Homo sapiens: one gene and its partners. The protein of the gene in region 1 purifies or fractionates together with the protein of each later gene. This does not show direct contact. Each region holds a gene or a part of one and is shown in the gene's direction. Other genes may lie near its edges.

What was found.
Region 2: the proteins of HIGD1A (region 1) and USP32 purify together in Homo sapiens (co-immunoprecipitation; one large-scale study listed by IntAct). This does not show direct contact.
Region 3: the proteins of HIGD1A (region 1) and IPO13 purify together in Homo sapiens (affinity purification with mass spectrometry; 2 studies listed by BioGRID and IntAct, with this or other methods). This does not show direct contact.
Region 4: the proteins of HIGD1A (region 1) and TSC22D1 purify together in Homo sapiens (co-immunoprecipitation; one large-scale study listed by IntAct). This does not show direct contact.

Annotation. Positions count from the first base shown.
Region 1 is NC_000003.12:42,794,491-42,797,990, reverse strand, and holds part of HIGD1A (HIG1 domain family member 1A, mitochondrial), read left to right. Parts: intron 1-3,500. UniProt on the Homo sapiens protein: Proposed subunit of cytochrome c oxidase (COX, complex IV), which is the terminal component of the mitochondrial respiratory chain that catalyzes the reduction of oxygen to water. May play a role in the assembly of respiratory supercomplexes.
Region 2 is NC_000017.11:60,182,634-60,186,133, reverse strand, and holds part of USP32 (ubiquitin carboxyl-terminal hydrolase 32), read left to right. Parts: intron 1-482; coding exon 483-674; intron 675-2,680; coding exon 2,681-2,969; intron 2,970-3,500. UniProt on the Homo sapiens protein: Deubiquitinase that can remove conjugated ubiquitin from target proteins, such as RAB7A and LAMTOR1.
Region 3 is NC_000001.11:43,949,950-43,953,449, forward strand, and holds part of IPO13 (importin-13), read left to right. Parts: coding exon 1-204; intron 205-3,500. UniProt on the Homo sapiens protein: Functions in nuclear protein import as nuclear transport receptor. Serves as receptor for nuclear localization signals (NLS) in cargo substrates.
Region 4 is NC_000013.11:44,569,831-44,573,330, reverse strand, and holds part of TSC22D1 (TSC22 domain family protein 1), read left to right. Parts: coding exon 1-168; intron 169-3,500. UniProt on the Homo sapiens protein: Transcriptional repressor. Acts on the C-type natriuretic peptide (CNP) promoter. Acts to promote CASP3-mediated apoptosis.

The DNA of each region.
Region 1 (3,500 bases):
CCGGGCGGCTGGCCGGGCGGGGGGCTGACCCCCCCACCTCCCTCCCGGATGGCACGGCTGGCCGGGCGGGGGGCTGACCCCCCACCTCCCTCCCGGATGGGGCGGCTGGCCGGGCGGGGGGCTGACCCCCCCTCACCTCCCTCCCGGACGGGGTGGCTGCCGGGCGGAGATGCTCCTCACTTCCCAGATGGGGTGGCTGCTGGGCGGAGAGGCTCCTCACTTCTCAGACGGGGCAGCTGCCGGGCGGAGGGGCTCCTCACTTCTCAGACGGGGTGGTTGCCAGGCAGAGGGTCTCCTCACTTCTCAGACGGGGCGGCCGGGCAGAGACGCTCCTCACCTCCCAGACGGGGTCTCGGCCGGGCAGAGGCGCTCCTCACATCCCAGATGGGGCGGTGGGGCAGAGGCGCTCCCCACATCTCAGACGATGGGCGGCCGGGCAGAGACGCTCCTCACTTCCTAGATGTGATGGCGGCTGGGAAGAGGCGCTCCTCACTTCCTAGATGGGATGGCGGCCGGGCGGAGACGCTCCTCACTTCCCAGACTGGGCGGCCGGGCAGAGGGGCTCCTCACATCCCAGACGATGGGCGGCCAGGCAGAGACACTCCTCACTTCCCAGACGGGGTGGCGGCCGGGCAGAGGCTGCAATCTCGGCACTTTGGGAGGCCAAGGCAGGCGGCTGGGAGGTGGAGGTTGTAGTGAGCCGAGATCACGCCACTGCACTCCAGCCTGGGCACCACTGAGCACTGAGTGAACGAGACTCCGTCTGCAATCCCGGCACCTCGGGAGGCCGAGGTTGGCGGATCACTCGCGGTTAGGGGCTGGAGACCGGCCCGGCCAACACAGCGAAACCCCGTCTCCACCAAAACCAGTCAGGCGTGGCGGCGCGTGCCTGCAATCGCAGGCACTCGGCAGGCTGAGGCAGGAGAATCAGGCAGGGAGGTTGCAGTGAGCCGAGATGGCAGCAGTACAGTCCAGCTTCGGCTCCGCATGAGAGGGAGACCGTGGGGAGAGGGAGACGGAGACGGAGACGGAGACGGAGACGGAGAAGGAGGGAGAGGGAGAGGGAGACGGAGAGGGAGACGGAGAGGGAGAGGGAGAGGGAGAGGGACGGAAGTTATAAGATTCTAACCCTCCCTAAAATGCTCCTAAGATCAGTGCTTGAGATATTTTGCAGACCCTGCACTTGATAGACCAACTGGCACCACCCAGATCAATAAACTGGCTCGTCTGATCTTATGTCCCCTACCTAGGAACTGACTCAGCACAAGAGGACAGCTTCAACTTCCCATTTCATCTCCAACCCAACCAATCAGCACTCTGTTCTCTGGCCTTCCCCCACCCACCAAATTATCCTTAAAAACTGATCCCTGAATGCTCCAAGAGACTGATTTGACTAATAATAAAAATCCTGGTCTCCCACACAGCTGGCTTTGGGTGAATTGCTCTTTCTCTATTGCAATTCCCCTGTCTTGGTAAATCAGCTCTGTCTAGCCAGCGGGCAAGGTGAACCTGTTTGGCGGTTACATGATTTCTCTTTTTTTTTTAAAAAAAAAAACAACAACTAATTTTTGAACGATTAATTACTTTAGTGTTTATATTGTATTATTCAGATATATAGTGAGTATCTTGAACCTTGAGCTTATTGAACCTTATATATAATAAAGCTCATTACTTAGGAGTTTATTCAGTTAAGAAGTAATGGAGTACAAAAAGAAGGTTTAAGTCCAATCTAAATTTTCTTTTATTTAGCTAAGATTTTCTTCTATGTCAGATGACAGTTGAGTCTTCTCAATGAAGGTGAGGCTTATAGGGATGAATTCACTTTCTAAACTAAGCACACCACCCCCTCCGGAGTTGCATTTTTGTTGAGGACCTTAACTGCCACTGACTCCCCTTGAGTAGCAAGGTGTTGAATGAGAGGTACTTTTATCAAAGGGAGCATAATGCACATGAAAAACCCAGAAGTGAAAGTAAGATTTTATATGGGTGTTAGGATGGGCATAGACTTTTAAGTTTATTGTAATTGACACTAATTAGAGACTTGTATGCTTACACTATGCTTCAGGCCCTTATTTTATCTGTGAGTAAAGTTTATTGCAATTCAAAATAGTTCAGTGAAGAAAGTATACTTTGTTATTGTGGCTAAAATGAAATAGCATTTGTTAATGCCTCATTGTGATAAAAGGGCTATTCACGGAGATGACTGAAAAGGAGGAAAGGAGCCTTTGATCCCTGTGATAATGAAAATGAATCCTTTTTTTTTTTTTCCTATCCCCTTACTCATACACTATCAGGCTAGATCTTGCCTTTGGGATACCATTTAAAGGAATTATAAAAAGAGGGTAGAGTTTTAAAAGGAAGCCTAGGGGATATAAGGTATGTAAATGAAGGCAGATCTGAAGCTTAGAAGATATTAAGAAGACCCTGAGGGTAATTCAGTTTTGTGCTGCAGTGATGTTAAAAGGTGCTAATCATAGGGCCAGGTGTGGTAGCTCATGCCTGTAATCCCAACACTGGGAGGCAGGTGGATCACCTGAGGTCAGGAGTTCGAGACCAGCCTGGTCAAGATGGTGAAACCCCATCTCTACTAAAAATACAAAAAAAATTAGCCAGGCATGGTGGCAGGCACTTCTAATCCCAGGTATTTGGGAGGCTGAGGCAGGAGAATCACTTGAACCTGGGAGGCAGAGGTTGCAGTGAACCAAGACTACGCCATTGCACTCCAGCCTGGGCAACAAGAACGAAACTCCATCTCAAAAAAAAAAAAAAAAGCTAATCATAAGCTGGCACAGTGGCTCACACCTGTAATCCCAGCAGTTTGGGAGGCTGAGGTGGGTGGATCACGTGAGGTCAGGAGTGAAACCCTGTCTCTACTAAAGAATACAAAAAAATTAGGCACGGTGGTGTGTGCCAAATGGAGGTTGCAGTGAGCCGAGATCGTGCCACTGCACTCCACCCTGGGCAACAGAGCAAGACTCAGTCTCAAAAAAGAAAAAAAACTAATCATAGGTCATTAAAAAAATCTAAAAGGCTATGAAGGAGACATTTCTACCAATATTTAAAATAAAAGCTTTGTTCTTAAAATGAGTAAATAATGAGCTAGGTAGAAACTTTGGCTATTCAGAATAATCTTTTCCCCAGAGGCAACCACCATGGATAACAGATTACTGTAATAGACTGGAAACTAATCTGAAGTGAAAATTGAAGCAAGGAAGCACATTGGAATAAATAAATCAGCAGTTGAAAGCAATAAAGACTGCATTTAACTACACCGAAAAGTGCTAAGTAGGATTTCCAACATGATATTGAAGGTTCAATAGGAGTTGTCAGTTTGGTTTGAGTAACTTAAAATTGTCAAGTTAAATAGTTGATTAAGGATGAAGATAGCCAGAAAATTAGTAGCTACTATTTTAATTGATAAAAGTAACATCAATTTAAAATTTTTCACTATTTTTAATTAACATGGTGCTAAAAATGAATGGGTTGTACAGGGGAAACGG
Region 2 (3,500 bases), on another chromosome or scaffold:
TGTAACATTTGTGAATAAATATATAGGTGCTGTATTTGCTCAGACTCTAGTTTGGGTTGTGTTTTCTTTTCCCTTTTTTTTGAGACAGGGTCTCTCTCTGTCATCCAGGCTGGAGCGCAGTGGTGTAATCACAGTTCACTGCAACCTCTACCTCCCAGGCTCAAGCAATCCTCCTGAGTAGCTGGGACTACAGACATGTACCACAATGCCCAGCTAATTTTTAGATTTTTCTTTTACAGAGACAGGGTCTCACTCTTTTGACCAGGCTGGTTTCGAACTCCTGGACTCAAGCAATTACCCCACCTCGGCCTCCTAAAGTGCTGGGATTACAGGCATGAGCCACCATACCCAGCCAGTTGTATTTTCTTTTTCCTTATATAGAGTAAAATAAGGGTGAGTGACCAAGAGGTTGATGCATACCTAGATCACCACTTTAAATGCCTTCCCACGCACCCCTTTCCTCCTGTTCCCTCTACCTGCAGGTTGTAGATGAGCATGAGAGTGTGGAGCAGAGTCGGCGAGCGCAAGCCGAGCCCATCAACCTGGACAGCTGTCTCCGTGCTTTCACCAGTGAGGAAGAGCTAGGGGAAAATGAGATGTACTACTGTTCCAAGTGTAAGACCCACTGCTTAGCAACAAAGAAGCTGGATCTCTGGAGGCTTCCACCCATCCTGGTATGTTACAGTCCTGCCTCTGAGAGAGCAGGAATCTGGCATAAAAGAAAGAAGACATGAACAAACAGGAGGTTTTGTTATTTTTGAGAATAAGACCTTTCCTGCAGCAGTGTTTAAAACACTTTCTGTACAAGCTTTTTATGTTGAATACAGAGATGAATCTTTCTACAAATATTTTGTAGTTCTTTTTCCTAAAGAGCTTATAACCTAGAAGATCAATCATGTAGACCAGTAACTGCAATTCAGTGCAATGTGAGAACTGCCACAAGGGGTACAACGTGGTGAATTTGAACTTCAAGAGAGGTTAAACTTCTGGCTCTGTGGAGAGAGGAAGCTTAGGCTAACCCTTTGTGGACTCTAGAAGAGCAACTGAGCCTGGAGCCCCCAACACCCACTGCACATAATCATGTGGCTATGGCACACTACTGAGTTGAGTGTGTGTACACAAGCACACCAGTGCACTAGGGCCTGTGTGTTCTTTTAGATTTAATTTACTTCTGCCTTCTCCCTTCATGGATTAGGAGACTGTCCTGTTGTTTGTCAGGAGAATTTGAAGTGACAAATCTTCCTATTCATTAAGATCAGTGTAACTGTAAGGTACTGGCATATTTTAATTCAGATATTTATATGTTTTTTTTTTTTTTTTTTTTGAGACAGGGTCTCACTGTGTCACCCAGGCTGTAGTGCAGTGGTGTAATCTCAGCTCACCGCAACCTCCACCTCTCGGGCTCAAGTGATTCTCTTGCCTCAGTCTCCTGAGTAGCTGAGATTACAGGCATGCACCACTACCACCCGGCTAATTTTTGTACTTTTAGTAGATATGGGGTTTCACCATGTTGGCCAGGCTAGTCTTGAATTCCTGACCTCAGGTGATCTGCCCACCTTGGCCTCCCAAAGTGCTGGAATTACAGGCGTGAGCCACCGTGCCCAGCCATGTTTTCTTATTCTATTCATGTCTCTGTCATACTACTCTGTGAAGCTGAATGTAGGTTTTTCTTAGACCAGAACAGCTTCCCAGGGAATGATGCACAAGAAATTAATAACATTGGTTGTTAGCTAGCTCCACAGATAGGAACTAGAGGGAAGGGGCAGGCTTGGAGACAAGGTGGGTGGGGAGGAGGGGGAGACTTTTTTTTTTTTTTTTTGAGACGGAGTCTCACTCTGTCGCCCAGGCTGGAGTGCAGTGGCACCATCTCAGTTCACTGCAAGCCTCACCTCCTGGGTTCATGCCATTCTCCTGCCTCAGCCTCCTGAGTAGCTAGGACTACAGGCGCCCACCACCACGCCTGGCTAATTTTTTGTGTGTTTTTTATTTATTTATTTATTTATTTATTTTTAGTAGAGATGAGGTTTCACTGTGTTAGCCAGGATGGTCTCGATCTCCTGACCTCATGAGCCACCCGCCTTGGCCTCCCAAAGCGCGGGGTTTATAGGCGTGAGCCACTGCGCCCGGCTGACGGGTAGACCTTTTAAAAAAAATTGAGGTATAATTAGCATACAATTAAAAGCATAGATTTTTAATATCCAGTTTGATGAATTTTGACAAGTATATATTTTCATATAATCATCACATAAAACAAGCAGAGCAGTCATGTAGACCAGTAACTGCAATTCAGTGTGATGTGAGAACTGCCACAAGGGGTACAATGTGGTGAATTTGAACTTCAGGAGAGGGTGAACTTCTGGCTCTGTGGAGGGTGGAAGCTTAGGCTAAGCCTTTGTGGACTCTAGAAGAGCAACTGAGCCTGGAGGCAGTACCCACTGCGCAGTCACGTGGCTGTGCCACACTGCTGAGTTGAGTGTGTGTGCACAAGCACACCAGTGCACTGGGGCCTATGTAGAGGCCTTTATGAAACCATATTTTTGAAGTCTTTAAAAAATAATGAAGAGTAAATGTTCTGTTATATATTCCCAAACATTCACATGTATTTGACTTGTTTTTTCCATGTAAATTTTGTATCTTCAGAACCCTTTAATGCAGATGTTTTCTACCTTTACTTCTCCAGATTATTCACCTTAAGCGATTTCAATTTGTAAATGGTCGGTGGATAAAATCACAGAAAATTGTCAAATTTCCTCGGGAAAGTTTTGATCCAAGTGCTTTTTTGGTACCAAGAGACCCGGCTCTCTGCCAGCATAAACCACTCACACCCCAGGGGGATGAGCTCTCTGAGCCCAGGATTCTGGCAAGGGAGGTGAAGAAAGTGGATGCGCAGAGTTCGGCTGGGGAAGAGGACGTGCTCCTGAGCAAAAGCCCATCCTCACTCAGCGCTAACATCATCAGCAGCCCGAAAGGTGAGGCCTGGGGGCCTTATGCAGGTGCTTTCTTGGGACTCCTGTAGGCTACATATGTTTCTCTGTCTTCTGTTCTGGAACATCAGGTTGGTTGGGTGGAAAGAACCTATCTGGAATCAGACCTATCTGTATTTGAGCTATGTAAGTTTTAGCAAGAGGTTCAGCCTCCCTGAATCTATTTTCTCATCTGTAAAATGGAGATAATGCCAGGTTTACAGAGTTGAGAGTGACACATGGAGAGTAAAGCACTTCACACAGTGCCTGATATACGGTAAACAGGAATGGTAGCTGCTGTCTTGTCCCCTTATAGCAAAAGTTCTGAGGTTCCCCATCTTTCAGGGGGTCTAGAGGATCAAAACTCTTTTTTTTTTAATTTATTTTATTTTTTATTTTTTTGAGACAGGGTCTCACTCTGTCACCCAGGCTGGAGTGCAGTGGTGCAACACAGATCACAGCTCACTGCAGCCTCTACCTCCTGGGGTCAATCAATCCTCCCACCTCAGCCTCCTGAGTAGCTGGGACTACAGGCAT
Region 3 (3,500 bases), on another chromosome or scaffold:
GCAGCTGCTACAGCAGCCCAGCTCACCCAGCTGTGTGCGTCAGAAGGTGCTCAAGTGTTTCTCCAGCTGGGTGCAGCTGGAGGTGCCGCTGCAGGACTGTGAGGCGCTCATTCAGGCTGCCTTTGCTGCTCTGCAGGACTCGGAGCTCTTCGACAGCAGTGTGGAGGCCATTGTGAATGCCATCTCACAGCCTGATGCCCAGAGGTGAGCTAGTACCCACTCACCCAGAAGACAACCTCTTTGGCCAGCCACACATCCATCCATCCATCTGTTCAATAAACATTAATTGAATGTGTACTGATACCTGGTCCTATGCTGGAGATACAGCAAGGAACCAAAGAAGACATGGTCCCTGTCCTCATGGTTCAGACAGGGAGGCAGACATTAAACAACTAATTATCAGTTATTCAATTAAAATATTTGACTCTCTTTTCCTTCTCTCAACTAGTCACCAAGTCCTGGCTGTTCCCCTCCTGACCATATTGCAAATCTATTTTTTTCCATTTCCATTGCTACCACCTTAGTCCAAGCTGTCATCATCTCTCTCCCCAGATTACTGTAGAGCTTGTCCTCACTCTTGTACCCTTCATTGTCCCAGCAGCCACAGTGATCTTTTGAAAATGGGGATCTAATCTTTCTGATCAGAAGCTTTCAGTGGCTTCTCAATGCTCTTAGGTTAAAGCTCAGAATCCTTAATGTGACTCATAATGGTGCTGCACAGTATGGCATCACTGGCCTCATCTCATGCTACTCTCCTTGCTCTCTACACGCTCACACAGTTTCTTTAATTCCTTGAATGTCCCATGTTCCTTTCAGCCTCTGGCTCATTACATATACTTGACACCTTGCCTCAGCTTAAACTTCATTTCCATAGGGAAGTCCTCCATGGATTCTTAAGGCTAAGTTTGATCTTCTCTCTTATATTACCTCAGAGCTCCCAGTATTTTTCCTTCTTAGCCCATAACATGATTTCTCTCACCTCTGTGAGGACAGGGACTCTGTCATTTTACTTTGTCGCATTGTGCTCGGCACATGGTAGCATTTGATATTTTGTGAATGGAGGAAAGTAGGAGTTGCCTGAGTTGGGAGGGGTGGGGCTGGAAGGGATTGGGGGAGGAAGGTGGATTGTTCTAGGCTTTAGGAACCACAGCATGTGCAAAGACTTGTGGGCAGCATCATGATATATTCAAGGGCCCTAAAGAAGTGAGTGTAGTGAAGTGTTTGGCAAATGTTCATTGAGCATGTCCTGTTTTGGGCCCTGTGCTGAGCTCTGGGAGCACAGAGACAAATGCTTTAGCTTCAGTCTCAGGAGCTCACAGTCTAGTGGACACATGAGTGGCAAGTACAATCAACATGATGAATCCTCTGATGGAGAACGCAGGGGCCTTGAAGAACCCAGAGGAGGCTTTCACTGAGTCTGAGGGCTGTGAAAGGATTCGCAGAGGAAGTGACAACCCAGCTGTGTAAGAGTTAGCCAGATGGAAGTGATGGATGGGGAGGACATTCCAGCCCAAGCAAGGGAAGGGTGAAAGCCCAGAGGGTCTGGTGATCTGTAAATCATTAGATGTGATTAGACAGCAAGATTTAAGGGCCAGAGGTATAGGAGACCTGGGCCCAGATCATGCAGGACCTTGGCCAAGTTTAAGATTTTGATCTTCATCCTGAAGACGATATAAAGATATTAAAGGATTATAAGCAGAGAAAATGGCCTACTGAGACTTTTGGTATGAGCTGGATTAGAAGAAGTGAGACTGGAGGTCCTGATGCTGACATTTCAGAGATGGGGCTTTGGGACCTTTGGCAGAATTGGAAGGGAAAACCATTGAAAGAGACTTCATGGAAGAGTGGCTGATGACTCAAGCCTTGGCATTAGTCACATCTAAGTTTGAATCCCAGATGGTTCACTTATTAGATCTGAAATCTTGGATCAGCCATTCCTAAGGCTCCGTTTCCTCATCAATAAAATGGGGATGATCATATCAACCCCACAGAGTTGAAAAGGTTTAAACAGGATAATGTGCACAAGTCCTGCCCCTGGTGTTCGGTAGAGAATATTTTGACTCCTTGAGTAATGGGAGTTCTTTTGTGGTCTCTGCTAGGGTTGGGATGGTCAGTAGCATGCATTTGTACCTTTGGGTTATTGATACGTTACATGTTTTAAAATGGGAACTGTGTGTATATGTTCTACCTTTATACTTTATGTGATCAGTTAATGGTAATTGTTTATTTATTTATTTTGAGACAGAGTCTCACTCTGTCACCCAGGCTGGTGTGCAGTGGCACAATCTCGGCTCACTGCAACCTCCGCCTCCCGGGTTCAAGCGATTCTCTTGCCTCAGCCTCCAGAATAGCTGGGATTACAGGCGTGCATCACCACGCCCAGCTAATTTTTGTATTTTTAGTAGAAACGGGGTTTTGCCATGTTGGTCAGGCTGGTCTTGAACTCCTAACCTCAGGTGATCCATCTGCCTCCGCCTCCCAAAGTGCTGGGATTACAGGTATGAGCCACCATGCCTGGCCAACTGTTCATTTTTTTAAAGAGAAACATAGTTACTATTAAATGGATTAAGGCTGTTTACTTTTAGTACTGGTCATAAGAAGTAGAACTGGAATCATGCAATAGAAAGTGGGCCTAGTTGTTCAGTGGCTAAATTTGAAAAGGAGTTGGTTTCCTATATATATATGTGTGTGTATACATACATATATTTATATGTATATGATACACACACACACATAGATAATGTGCTTAATCACTGCCTTTTGAAACTTTAAATAAAATATTGGGTTGATTTTAAAAAATAAAAGATTGTTTCGGTATGAGGATTAAATAAGAGAATGTGAAGCTTTTAGCATGGTTCCTATATACTCTGTAAACGGCAGTTGCCAGTATTTGGTTTCATTATTGTGTTGGGAGTTATTATGATACTTATCCCCTGGCTTCCCAGGCTTTCCAGCTTAAGGTGGATACCTAATCCCAGATCTCTTGGCAGCCTGAAGCTCAAGTGCTGGGTGGGCTCTGACAGTTGGTGACTAAGGGAAACAGATCAGGGCAAGTGTGTGGGTGATGTGAGGTGTCCTTGGATACACCCAAGTTTACCCGCCCAGCCAGTCTCAAGGGCTTTGGCAGGTAATTGATGCCCCTTCTCCTCTGAACGAATGAGCGAGCAAGGAGCCAGTGAGGTAACCCACAGCCTCCTTGGTGCCCATTGGCTGCAGCCCCTTGGTTGCTTAGCAACTCTCCCCATTTTCTCAGCTCTGCTCCTGAAGCAAAGCTCTAATTGCAGGTCTGGGCTGAGCTCCGTGTGAGCAGCAGCAGAGGAGTCCCAGCAGCCCTGCCTCGGCTACTTGAACTGACCGATTGGAGCCAGGCCTCTTGAACCCAGCCTCAGCTGTGGTCATAAAGACATCCTCCCTGTCTCCTTCCCCCAAACCTAGAAACCTCTGGGACCTCAGACTTGTTCTTCTGTCCACTCACAGGTCGCAGACACAGGTGCTCAGGT
Region 4 (3,500 bases), on another chromosome or scaffold:
TGCAGCGGAGCCCTCCTTAGTTGGCTTACCTCAGACTATCAGTGGTGACAGTGGGGGAATGTCAGCAGTTTCAGATGGGAGTAGCAGCAGCCTAGCAGCCTCTGCTTCTCTTTTCCCGTTGAAGGTGCTACCGCTGACGACACCCCTGGTGGATGGCGAGGATGAGAGGTAAGATCATGTCATATTTCTGGAGACATTCAACAGATTTGAAGTTAATCTATTTAGTAGCTATATGTATGCACAAAATGACTCTAAAACATTGTATATTGTGTTTTGTATGTGAAAAATGCATTTTTATGGGAAGTTTTATAGAGCAAGAGTTATGGAATGGTTTCAGAGGGAGTAGGAAATAATAGTAATATGTAAACAATATTTTCAGAATAGTTGTTGAGCATGTGTTCACATTAAAAACAGGTTTGGGGGCGCCAAGTGGTTTTATTATCTCTAAAATGCTTTTTAGAAATATTATGGAAAGCTTAATTTTTGCTAACCCACATAATAGTTAATCTATTTTGAGCTGCTAAAATAATCTCTTGGGGGGTTGTGGTTCCCACGTTTGTTCTCCTTTACTAGACATCCCTTTTTCATTTCTACTGTGTTTGATCTTAGTCTGTGAAAGATATTGTTGCCTACTTTTCCTAGTCAGATATGGTAGGAAAGATGACTTAATCTGGGTTATATAGGTTGCCCTCATACTCCAACTGACCAACTTTTGCGTACTTATTTAATGGTCATTTTATCTGAACAGTAAAGGAATGGGAATCTTATTTTGTGGGAAAGGAGGACATAAACTATCAAAATAACCAGACTTATCTTGATAGTATGCTGAACATTTTTTCTTTTGCATGGTAGATCAAGGTGGTAGCCATTTTAAAGAACAGAGAAAGTAAGTCTTGGAGGATTGAATTTATAGAGGCGTGAAAATAAGACCTTGGTCTCTGGCTAATCTACTCCACCTGTTCCTTTCTTTCCTTACCAAAAAGATACAGAAAGCCTAAAGTACATTATTAAACCAAGCGTTTTTTCACGTAGATTGGAAATAATATGCCAGTAACGCTTATTGAATCAAATTGTGTCTTTGAAGCTGACTGGCTAAAAAAGTTGTGAAATCTTTCATGTTGATTTTTAAAGTAATGTTCTTTTCACAAATTTTCCAGTCTGTTACTAACCTTGATTAAAATGCTATTATAGGAGTTATGAAAAGACATCATTTTCACGGTGGAATTTGGAGTAAGCGTGCAAGATATTTAATTATTTTAGTATTAGTTGGAGGGTTTTGTGATTGAACTTTCATCAAGCGAATTTAAGCATTTATATTCTATATGTATGTTTGTGGGTTTTGCTTTGGAAAAATTGAGCATATTGCAAAATAGTTGTAATTTTAGAAAAAGAAAACAGGTCAAATGTTTCAGTGAGGTTTGTGTTATTTAGTTGTTTAAAAGGTAAGATAAAGACATGGTTAAATTGATAAAATCTTATCTTTCAAGATTTTTATTATTTTTCTAATAGTCAGGTAATTAAAACCTTGTTACCTAACCAAATGTATTCTGTATTATTTGTACAAAACTGTACTCTAAAAGATAAACTTTTAGGAGGTAGTTTCCTTAATTGTTCCATTATTATTGTTAAACCTTTAATTTTATCATGCTAATACTCAACTAATTTTAAAAGAATTACCACAAATATTAATGTTTTTTAAGTCAAAAGGTTATGATTTGAGTGAAGCCTCTATAAAAACAGCTATATTATGTGGATGCTAAGTTTAGAGAAACAAAAGACGGGTAAAATACACAAACAAAAACACTCATTTTGAATTCAAACTTGCCATGATTTTGTAATTGCCATTTGTGGTCTCCTGGCTTGACTTTCACCTCTTTTTCCTCCTATTGGTAGGACATGATAGGATTTTCCACAGCTTGCCCTTCCAGGCAATTAAAGTCAGATGATGCTACTTTCAACTAGAGTTTTAACTATAGGAATAGGGTCCCAGTTTAAGATATTAATATAAAATTAATTTTTCCAGATAATAATTGAGAAAAGGAATAATAAGGTGGAAATTATGGAATTCTAGAAAGGGACAAAAAGACATACTGAGAAATAAGGAAATATAGCTCTAATACAAGTTGTCTTCAGACACTGTACACATTCAATTATAATTATGTTTAGCAGTCTCTCCCACAAGACCAGGAGTTCCTCAAGAGCAGGGACTGTTTTGAATTTACTACCTATTTGGGCCTTGGTTAGTTAACATCAAAGTTTCGTGATTAAAAACCAGAAAATTTTTGTTTTAGCGGTATCTTAAATTCTGTGAAATCGGAATGTAGCCCTAAAACACCTTGTAAGATCAGAAAAGATATATATTATATTCTTTATTGTGTTTTACTGAAGATTATTTATCACTACAGTTTGGAAAAAAGTTAATTTTCATTTAAATTTGCCCTTGGAAGATAATTTAAGAATAACTACAAGAGAAAACAGTGATATGATTAAAAAACAAACTTTTAAAACCTTTCTTCCCATGGTAGCTTCTGTTGTCACTTGCATCTTCTGGGCTTGGTCACCATTAGTCTCAGGAGAGAGGGAATACATATATAATTTCAATATTATGAATCAGGAAATGTGTTAACAATATAATTTGGGCAGTAGGACAGATGAGGATGGTTATCTTTTAATCATCTTTTGAAATAATACTCTTAACACTTTAGATTATAAAATGTTTAGACATGTGGAAAGTGCCTTCAGTTGATCACTGGGAGAGACTATAAACATGGATCAGGATGCTAAGATTATGTATCTTGTTTTAAAAAAAATCATTCTTATTTAAAAGGTCTTAATGTCAGGCCGTGTGCGGTGGCTCACACCTGTAATCCCAGCACTTTGGGAGGCTGAGGTGGGCAGATTGCTTGAGCCCAGAAATTTGAGACCAGCCTGGGCAACATGGCAAAACCCTGTCTCTACAAAAAAATACAAAAATTAGCCAGGCATGGTGGCGCATGCCTGTAGTTCCAGCTACCTGGAAGGCTGAGGTGGTAGGATCCCCTGAGCCCTGGAGGTCAAGGCTGCAGTGAGCTGGGATCATGCCACTGCACTCCAGCCTGGGTGGCAGACCAGGACCCTGTCTCTAAAAAAAAAAAAAAAAAAAGTCTTAATGTCTTAGACTGTAACATGAACTGTGAATTCACCTTTACAAGAATGGGAAAATACAGGTATTGCATCTTTTATGTTTTGTGATTGTTATTAGCACAGCCTCTTAACGTGAAATGGGTCAAACTTCTATTCATCCTTCAAGACTCAGCTCAGATGTTCTCTTTAAAGCATTCTTTTCACTCAGGGGACATTGTTTCCTTAGCACTTTTTAATATTCCTCTATTTAAGCACTGTACACATTCAATTATAATTATGTTTACCAATCTTTCCCACAAGACTAGATGTTCCTCAAGGGCAGGGATGAATTATTTTTTTGAATTAATTAGCAGGCATTTCTCCTGATTTTTTTTTTG